Regions from separate parts of the Homo sapiens genome. Here region 1 is linked to region 2. A link means that fine-mapping ties the variant in region 2 to the expression of a gene that starts in the linked region. Tissue or cell type: whole blood. Region 2 holds a variant in brackets; the other region holds the start of a gene. All regions are shown on one strand. Distances are from middle to middle.

Region 1 (5,000 bases), 130 kb after region 2:
CCCAGGAGTTCAAGACCAGCCTGGACAACATAGTGAAACCTTGTCTCTACAAAAAATACAAAATTAGCTGGTTGTGTTAGTGCACACCTGTAGTCTCAGCTACATGGGAGACTGAGGCCGGAGGATCTTTTGAGTGGGAGGCAGAGGCTGCAGTGAGCCGAGATTGCGCCACTGCATTCTAGCCTGGGTGACAGGGAGACTCTGTCTCAAAAACAAACAGGTCATGTGAGAAATGGCTGATAGATCACACCAGGCTTCTTAGAGCCCAGAATAGTTTGGGTCCCTTTCCCCTTTTCATAACATGATCATAGCACCTTTCATTTCCTTTTCTATCACAGCTGTAATTATTTATTTATTTATTTATTTATTTATTTGAGACAGAGTCTTGCTCTGTTGCTCAGGCTGGAGTGCAGTGGCGTGATCTTGGCTCACTGCAAGCTCCACCCCCTGGGTTTAAGCAATTCTCCTGCTTCAGCCTCCCAAGTACCTGGGATTACAGGCACCCGCCATCACGCCCAGCTAATTTTTGTATTTTTAGTAGAGATGGATTTCGCCATATTGGCCAAGATGGTCTTGAACTCCTGAGCTCAGGTGATCCCCGCCTCACCTTCCCAAAGTGCTGGGATTATAGGCGTGAGCCACCATGCCCATGCCCGGTCAATTAAGTAATTATTTAGGTTATTGTTTGTTCTTGACTAGAAAAGGACAGGGACCTCATCTGTCTATTCGTGTTGTGTTTCCAGAGCTGAGAGTTGTTCCTGGCACACACACACTGCTCCATTAATGTTTGAAGAACAAATAAATGAGAAAACGAGTATGACGGGAGAAGAGGAGCTGAGGGCCATGTGGTTGTTCACATCCTTGAAGGAGTGTTGGGAGAGGGCTCATGCTGACCTGGGTGACGCTGGACAGCAAATCCAGGGAGATCTGACAGGAAGGAATTGCCAGGAGGTAGTTTGGAGTCAAATGCACACAGTGAGGGCCAGGGGTCCTCGGGGTGGTGACAGTTTCCTCTCGCTGGAGATGCCTCAGGAGAGACCAGGCAGCTGGCACAGAGCAGGGATTTCCACATCATCTCATGCTGCTCTGGGCTGGAGGTAGATACTGGCTGCCTCTAGGCAAATGTGGCCAGCAAATGTGCTTTGTTTAGTCCCTCCCAGGGTTTAAGATATTTTTTCGAATTAGTTTCCAACATTTTAGAATCAGAAGTGTCGAAAGACAAAATGACAGCAAATTTAAAGATCCTAAGTAGCTTTTCTTCATGATTCTAGAATCGGGCAGCCCTCAGAACCAACAGGTTCAAAGGACTTTGGGGCTGCAACGTGGTTAGACAACATTTATGGACAGAAAGTGGAACTGAGGCGCAGAGACAGCTTAACTGGTTACAGGTTTATGTTCTAGCTTATTTGAATCAGCTAACCACCTGCCAATGACAGAAGCTCACTGGCTGTGATTGGCTGAGACTCAGCTGTTTGTTACAAAAGCATCCTCCTCAATTAGGGTGTCTTCTCTTTTATGTTAACTATGCCAGGCTGCAGCTCCTTATGTAAGGACTCAAGTAGGGAGGCATCCTCAGGCCTAAACATTTAACAGAAGGTGTTGCATGAAAACGCATGTTTGGGCTGGTTGCGGTGGCTCACGTCTGTAATTTAACAGGCTCCGGGGTTGGGGACCCCTGCTCTAGCTCATAGAACTCCCTCCGACTCACCCCTTCCCGCGCCCCACGTCCCTGTGAACAGTCTGTCCCTGCAGGTACCCAGTTTCTGTTCTCCGGTCTTGTTGCTATGAAGAACCCTTTCCCTCTGCTTATGTATGAAAAGAACTTAAGAAATAATCTTTTGTTATTCCTTGAAGAGTTGCGGTTTAGGATTCAGAGCACTAATGAGATTTTGTGTAACTATTCCTTGGTGTCCTGGCTTAGGGTGTGCTTTGCTTGGTATCTCCCCCTTTTAACCCCCCTCTTCCTAATATCCACCTCACCCTCCAGATTCAGCCCAAACTCTGCATTCTGTCCCCTACCTTCTCCACTCCCCCAAGGCGAGTTAGGCACCCTTCCTCACTGTAGCACCCTGAGCTAAGGCTACCTAACTTACTGTTGGTAATTTTCTTTGCCTGTAATTTCACTGAGGGCAGGAACTGTTCCTTATTCATGTCCACACTTTTCTGCCAATAGTAAGCCTGTTTACAGTTTAGTGAATGAATGAGGATACATTGCAAAGGAAGCTTGGAAGTCCTTTATTTAACTCATGCAGACCGACTTTAAACCCACAGCACACGGGAACACGGGACATTTTGAGTAATGCTCCAAAGAGAATCTCAGAAATAGCCAAACCTTGGTTCTCATCCATTCTTGATTACAGAAATGGGGAACACTGAGCCAAGATGCGAAATCAGGAAAGTGCTTTTGGTCCACTGGTCTAGCTGCAGTCTAGAAGCGGCTTGCGGGAGAAGCTACCAGAAAGAGCCCGGAAGGTTCCTGTCATCATTCGGGGTGGCAGAAGTTTGTCCTGGCTTTTAACCTTTTTTGGGGTCACAAGACCCTTAGGGAATGAATATACAGCTATAGCTCCTCTCCCTAGAAAAATGCAGACACCCATAGTGTTTTCCAGACAACTGCAGGGCATTCGTGGACTCCCGAGGCCCATCCTTACGCCCCGACACTCGGGAAGTAGGAGTGAATGAATGCGCTGTTTACCTGCCCTAGGGACAAGAGGTAAACTAAGTCATTCATTCACTCATTCCTTCTGTCTTGAGCCCCAGCTCAGGGCTAGCCTGGGTGCTCCCGGCCGTGGGGCTCCGCCCCGGCACGGGGCCACGAAGGAGGGCCACCCCCCTCGCCGCGCGCCCGCGGCCCCGCTTCCACCGCGCCGCGCCCTCTTCCGCCGTGAGAGTCGCTTCCGCGCACGTGATCTCGGCGTCGCGCTCTGATGAGTTTTCCGCGGCCGGCCGCTGCTCAGCCGCTGTCGCTCCGGCTCCGGCTGCGGCTGCCGCTGCCGAGGCTGCTGCGCGGCGCCTGGCGGGCTCGGGACGCGCGGGCCGGGGCCGAGGGCTCTGGGCGCCGAGATGGAGCCGTGAGTCCCCGGCCGAGCGGGCGGGCTGGCTGGCTCTCCGGACACTCCGGCCGAAAGTTGGGGATCCCTGGCTCCCGGCGCCGTGCCGCAGGGTCCCTGGCGCCCACGTGGAACTGGGGGCAGGGAAAAGGGCGCTGAAGGGGGCTTCGCGGGCGGGTCAGGCGGAGGTGTTTGCGCGGGGCGAGAGTAGACCGGGGCCGGGGCTCCCTCCTGCCTGCCCGCCCGGCCGCGGTTAGAGACCGGGATGCGGTCGGGGTTCCGGGACGGGGCTGCGAGCCACAGCGCTCACCGGGGGGCCGAGAGAACCGGGGGCGCTGCGGCCCTTCCCCGGCGTAGGGTGGCCGCCCGCACGGAGTCCCGCCGCCTCCCGGGCAGCCTCTCCTGCCGGAAAGGCCCCGCCCCGTCGTCCCCTCGGTATCGAGAGCGCCCCGCGCTGCCCTGCGGTCTCGCCCAGCGCCGGGTGCGAGGCTCTCAGAGGCGATTGGTGACGTGGGCACCGGGGAGCCTGCCGCAACAGCCCCTTTGGACTCGGGGTGTCGAGTTATATGAGTTTTATGCGTTTTACGATCTGCTGACTTTGGGCTTTTTTTTTTTTCTTTACCTCTTTGAAGTCCAGGGTTTTTAATGAGGAAAAACCTGTTTGGGGTCTCGTGGACGCCATCCCTAAAGCTTGCTTTTGACCCAGCAGTCGCCTAGGTGTCCCCCTGGGCGCATCTGGAAAAGAAGGAGACGGAGTTAACCAGAGGGTTAGCGCCGCGTGGAGTTGCAGAAAGTCCGGGAGAAGGAGTGGCCCATATGTGCAGCCGCGCCTGGCGCAGGAGGCTTCCAGGGCCGGCTCCCTGCACTGAAGGCAGCCTCCGAGGGGCCTGGGCGCGCTTCTTGGCTTATATGCGGTTTTTGAGGCAGAAGGGTTTTGCTTTGGATCTTTGCTGATTTCTCTGGCTGTGGACGTGGTCAGAGAAGTGACACCCAGGCCTGTTGCCTCAGCGCAAGTGCCTGTGACAGAGAGATCTGTTTTTCCTTCTGCTTCCTTAGAAGTTTCTGACTTTGGTATGTTGCTTTAGCACCTCTTGGGAAACTGGAATGGCATCAAATATCAGACCTATGTGGATGTTTTAAAGATTTTAAAAGCCAAGTGGAGGTAGGTTAGCAGTATTGCCTCTGCACAACTCCAGAGGGCAAGATTCTTGTGCGGCCTATGTAAATAATACTGCTTGGAACGGTGTCTTGTGGAACTGTGGCCTTGTAGCAGAGTGACAGCTGCGTGTTACAGGAGTTCTCTCACGCGCTGCCCCTTGGAGCTGCATAGGTGGGCTGGGTGTGCTTTTTCAGTAGGAGAGAGGCCGGGGACGTGAGGTGGTGAGGGCCTTGGCCAGGACAGGGATCTGGGTCTTCTGCCAGGGTCCTGCGCTGTTACAGGACAGGGAACTAGACCAAAGAAAGCAGTTGACCAAGGAAAGGTCCCGAGGAGGACAAGCAAAACGCAGCTTGAATTTTGTGCGAGTTTGAGGCCTCCCCCTGCAGCTGTAAGCGCTTTGTGCCTCAGGCTCTGTGGAGCACTAAGAGGGTTAGGGAAGACGGAGGGGGATGAGGGTATCTGGAAATCAGCCCACCACCATCGGCCAGCATTCCAGGCACCTACCTGGAAACTGAGAAGAGTTTGGTAGCAGATAAAATCCTCCTAAAAAACAAGCCTGAAAATCCGAAGTGCGTCCTGGACTTAGGTGACTGAGTGTTCTCTGTCCTTGTCTGGTGTGCCTGAGAGCCCAGAGGTGAGAAAGGTGAGAAAGAAGAGAAGTCCAGGGAAAGAATGGGAGAGAACAGAGCCGCTTGGAGGAGCAGGGGCAGCTCCACCACTCTGCTTACGGTGTGTAGGGGACCGTCCCCCTGCAGACCCTGGCCTTATGACCTCTGACTCTCATTCGGCCC
Region 2 (5,344 bases):
GAAGGAACAGATGTGAAAGCCCTTAAAAATCCAGGAGTGGATGTCTTGGCTTCACATTCTTCCCTCGCCTAGAGTGATGGAACCCATGAGCCATCTGTGAGGCTCATCTCATGGTCCTCTGATGAGTTGTGCCAGCCAGTGTCCCCAGCAGACTGTGCACATGTAGGACAGGCAGGGGACCCACTGGGGATACAGCAGTGAGAGAGACGCAGCTCTTGCCTTTGAGGTACAATTGGACCTGTTGAGGAGACAGACCTCTCCTTACACAGAATCTGCTGCCGTGGCTTGGCAACGTGTGGAGGAGGACTTCCCAGGAAGGGCTGGCTGTGACTCCCAAGTCGAATCTGGGGTACGTTGTTCCAGGCAGCCCAAGCAGAGTTCCAGGGTATTGACACCATGGTGTGCACGTACCACAGGGAGTGGTTTCCTGCTGCCGTGGAACGTGAAGGGGGACTCCTGGGGCTGGAGGAGTCGGTAGGACAATGGCCATGGGAAGCATGGAGGCCATGCTGACGTGCCTGGCCTTGAGTCTGTAGACCTTGGCGTGAGGAAAGAGCTGATGTGGCAAGCAATTGGGTACGTGGCCGCAGCCTCTGTCCTGATGACTGCTTTTACTAACAGGTGGGATTTTGTTCTAGGAAAGCGCCCCCACTGCCTTTAAATAAAATGGTTGCAGCAGGGTGCCTGTTGTCTCAGCTAGTCAGGAGGCTGAGGTGGGAGGCTCACTTGAGCCCAGGAGTTCTCGAGACCAGCCTAGGCAACATAGCAGGACCCCATCTCTGAAAAAAAAAAAAATTAAAAAAAAAAAAAAAAGGATTTGCAGGTCACTGAAGCAATAAGGACCCTGGGAAAAATTTACCACAGAGAACATGTGTATCAGGCACTCAGTCTTGTTTGAACTGAGACATAGAGCAGGAATACTCCTCCTCCTGTCTCTACCACTCATTCACATCTCTTGCTTGGTTTGATTTTATCAATGAAAAAAGAGTCCATAGACAGGTTGTGGGCCAGCCTGATGTCTGTAATGTCAGGAGTTGGATGTGGAAAGCGCACCCCTGCAGCTCAGGGGCTCTGAACGGTGGACATGAAGGTAGAGCTGCAGGAAGCCGGATGAGTCTCTTCCTGCTTCCCTGAGAACTTTCTGCCTTTAATGTGAGTTAAAATAGCTTCCAGGAGTAAACCTCTTCCTCACATCTTGAGCTATATTGGATTATAGTGGGATTTTAGGCTACTTCCTGTCAACTTTAAAAAATATAAGCAGTGCATGGCTGGGCACGGTGGCTCACGCCTGTAATCCCAGCACTTTGGGAGGCCAAGGCGGGTGGATCATGAGGTCAGGAGATTGAGACCATCCTGGCCAACATGGTGAAACCCCGTCTGTACTAAAAATAGAAAAATTAGCTGGGCATAGTGGCATGTGCCTGTATTGTGCGCTGTTTTGCCAACTTTCTATTATGAATATGTTCAAATGTACAGAAAAGTTGAGAAAATAAACCTTCCTGAAACATTTTGCCATATTTGCACTTTTTCCTCACCACTCCCCACTTTTTTGTAGTTCTTGTTTTTGAAAGTAAGTGGTAGACATCGTGGCACATCACCCTTATATATTTCAACATGTGTTTCCTGAGAATAAAGCCTTTCACCTGCACAGGCACCCCTAAGAAATTAGCAATGACATTATCTGGTATCTAGGCTACCTTTTTATTTCCCTAATTGTTACAGGAATGTATTTCATAGTCTTTTTTGGTTTTTTGGAACCAGGATCCAGTTTAATTCATGTACAGCAGTTGGTTGTTCTGTCTCTACAGTCTTTTAGTCTAGAACAGTTTCCCGTTTTTTAAATTGACTTTTTCATGAGGTCAGTGTGGCCACCTTACACGCTGTCCCCACACTCTAGATTTGTCTGATTGTGTTTACTTATAGTATCATTTTCCTTCCGGCCCTTGTATTTCCTATAAACTGGAAGTTAAGTCTAGACTAGAGTTGGAGTAAACAATTTTGGCAAGAATACTTTAAAGGTAACATATTCTTTACTCTGAACCACACTAAAAAGTGTATAATGTCTCATCCTAGTCTGAGGGTTGCTGAGTTTAATGGAACCTTTGTAAAAACAAAAGTTGCTAGGCGCAGTGGCTCACGCCTGTAATCCCAACACTTTGGGAGGCCGAGGCAGGTAGATCACGAGGTCAGGAGATCGAGACCATCCTGGCTAACACGGTGAAACCCGTCTACTAAAAATACAAAAAATTAGCCAGGCGTGGTGGCACGTGCCTGTAGTCCCAGCTACTCCGGAGGCTGAGGCAGGAGAATTACTTGAACCCAGGAGGCATTGCAGTGAACCGAGATGGCGCCATTGCACTCCAGCCTGGTAACAAGAGGGAAACTCTGTCTCAAAAAAAAGTTATTTTTCACAGCATGTTGTTAATGTCATCTACACTTAAACAGCTGATTTGTTCAAAGGATGTGTTTTACTTCAGGCTAAAATTCATCTTCCATTAAATTGCAAGAAGGGAATGTAATCCTACCTGGAATTTATTTAGTGGGTGAGGACTCTGTATTAGTTTGCTTGGGCTGCCATGACAGAATATCACAGACTGGGCGGTTTCAACAACAGAAGTGTATTTCTCACAGTTCTTCTGGAGGCTAGAAGTCCAAGATCAAGGTGTTGGCAGGTCTCATTTCTCCTGAGGCCTGTCTCCTTGGCTTACAGACACCTGCCTTCTTATTGTGTTCTCACGTGGACTTTTCTCTGTGCACCCACATTTCTGGTGTCTCTTCCTCTTCCTGTAAGGACACCAGTCCTGTTGGATTAGGTTCCCACCCATATTACCTCATTTAACTGTAGTTACCTCTTTACAGGCCCCATCTCCAAAAATAGTCACATTTGGGGTTCAACACATTTGTTCAACAAAATTCAACATATGAGTTTTGGGGCACACAATTCAGTCCATAATAGACT[G/A]ATAGAAAATATTTTGGAGAATATAAAAGTTACAGAAGAAATAGTGATATAAACTCAGCTTGATAAACTTAGGATATATTTGTAAATAGAACAGGTTTTATAGGGCTTGGGAGCAAACCAGAATGACACAAAGAGAAAATGTCAAATAAATATAAGTATGACTGGGAAAAATATCTGGGTCCTAAGTTGACGCAGAGTAATGCTGCAACAGTGAAGCTTTTGCAGTTCTGGAAACATCCAGCATCACAGCAGGGTCTGCCAGAGCGAATGTTTCATTGTCTGTGTTCTCCTTGGGTTTAGGAGAATACCTTGCCCCTTGATATGTGAAAATTATTTGAGACGTTGACATTTTGAAATATTCTTCCAGCATGTTTTGGATCTTAGCTAACTGTCAATTCACTTGGAAAGCCTTTCAACTAGAGAATGCAATGAGAACCTGAGCTGTGTTTCCATGAAAAAGGTTGACATGCTGATATGCCACCCAGCATTTCCATGCTGAGTGTGGTCCTCCTAGGGCGGTGACCAGCTGATGTGCCTGAGGCCACTGAGGAAAGGTCAAAAGAAGAGCCCCAAACTTCAATTTGAGACTCCAGTTTAAATGTGGAAGAATTTTGTGGTAACTTCTGAATGAAAGTTACCACATACATGAAATGGCATGGGAAGAAGACTCTCTCCTTGTTCCTGCCAGTCTGGGGGAGCTCCAAGAAGCAGCCCCCACACGTTTCTCTGCTGTGGGAGACAACGGGCTCTGCCCAGAACTCTTCCCAGGCTGCGGCTTTGTCCCTGTGTCATCTCTGATACCCCATCTCCAGAGAGCTCCTGCAGTGAGGCACATACATAATATGGGTGCATGAACCATTTTTTAAATCATCTTAAGACAATTTCAAGGCGTTAAAGCTTATGGAAGTTAGTGACACCCATTTCCCCCCACAGTCAGGGTAGCCCCCTGTCCTGGGTCAAGCAAAGATGAGTATCTTGTGTATGTCTTCCAGGCATTTGCAGCTTCCCTCCCCAGTCAGTGGTTCCTGTTTCTTGCCCCAGGAGCCACAGAGCATGCTTCTCTCTGGGCTCTTGGCCTCAGATGCGGTCTCCTTGGCAGCCTGGTGCTTCCATCCTCTGCTCGGCTACCTTGGTTGGCGTCTTCTGGACCCTGTCAGCACATCCAGGCACGTCCTTTCTGCAGTGCCTCTCCCAGCTGGATCTTGCCTCCTCCTCCCATCGCTGTCATCTCCCTCCCCGGCTCTTACATGGCATGCCTTTCCATCCAACTCGGTCCCCCTTCCTAGGTTCCAACCTCAGACCTCTCCCCTTTTTTCCATCCTTTGGGTGATTTCCTCCATTGCCACAGCTGCATCAGCTCCCATCTGTTTGCTGCTGGCTCCCCACACCTATCCCGCGCTCATCGCTCTTGTCCTTCACACTGCGACACCATCACCGTCACCACCACCACCATGCTTGCAGAGCAACTCCGGATAGACGTAGACGTTGCTCAAGTCCACTGTGGTCTGAACTTAGCTTCCTCTCCCCCCTGCCTCTCCTCCCTCCGGTCCCTCATCTGCACTCTTATCTTGCTTATCATTTATGCCCTAAACTGGGAATTGCTCATCGTTTGTGCCCTCAACTGGGAATCCTTTATCCCCTAAACTGGGACTCTTTTTTTTTTTTTATTTTGAGGTGGAGTCTCGCTCTGTCGCCCAGTGGCACGATCTCGGCTCACTGCAACCTCCGCCTCCCGGGTTCAAGCGATTCTTGTGCCTCACCCTCCCAAGTAGCTGGGACCACACAGGCATGCGCCACCATGCCTGGCTAATTTTCGTATTTTTAGTAAAGACGGGGTTGGCTAGGCTGGTCTTGAACCGCTAACCTCAAGTGATCTGCCTGCCTCAGCCTCCTAAAGTGCTGGGACTACAGGTGTGAGCCACCATGCCCAGCCTGGACTCTCTTTTCTGTACCTCCAACCTTCACTTAGTCACCAGGTCCTGTTGATTCCACTTCCTATGTTTCTATCTGAGACTATTTATTTATACTTAAAGTTTATAGATGATTGTGCTCAAACCAGCTTAACTGAAAGTATTTAAGGTTTCATGTAACTTGACCAGAATGTATCACTTGAAGGGAGGTTAATGGTTCTCCTGAAATACAGGTACAGGTATACTTCACTTTATATAGTGGATGAAAGAATGTAGGTAAAGTGAGTTTTTGAAAACATGATTATATTTTAACTACCCACCTACAGGAATCTCCCTATTTAAAGAATATTCTATAGAAATTGCCCTTGTTTAGAAGGCAGTTGTTTTTGAAATGAGAATTCTTCACCTCATACATGTTTTTGCTAGCAATATCCAGATTTTAGTTTTCCGGGAGTAGAGGTAATATTTCTTTATA

The links. PIP is the estimated chance that this variant, and not a neighbour inherited with it, causes the effect.
Region 1: it holds the start of TMEM181, and the variant in region 2 is fine-mapped to the expression of TMEM181 in whole blood (TOPMed, PIP above 0.99).

Annotation. Positions count from the first base shown.
Region 1 is chr6:158,557,162-158,562,161 of GRCh38, forward strand. It overlaps TMEM181 (transmembrane protein 181), which reads left to right and starts at 2,930. Exons shown (of 17, transcript NM_001376852.1): 1 at 2,930-3,071. The coding sequence starts at 3,064. RefSeq lists a silencer at 2,621-3,540 and enhancers at 3,960-4,461, 4,462-4,961.
Region 2 is chr6:158,431,315-158,436,658 of GRCh38, forward strand. All of the region lies in intron 3 of TULP4 (TUB like protein 4), which reads left to right. Among named protein-coding and RNA genes, the nearest start is that of SNORA116, 110 kb to the left of the region's middle. The variant G/A (reference allele first, on the strand shown) is at 2,960.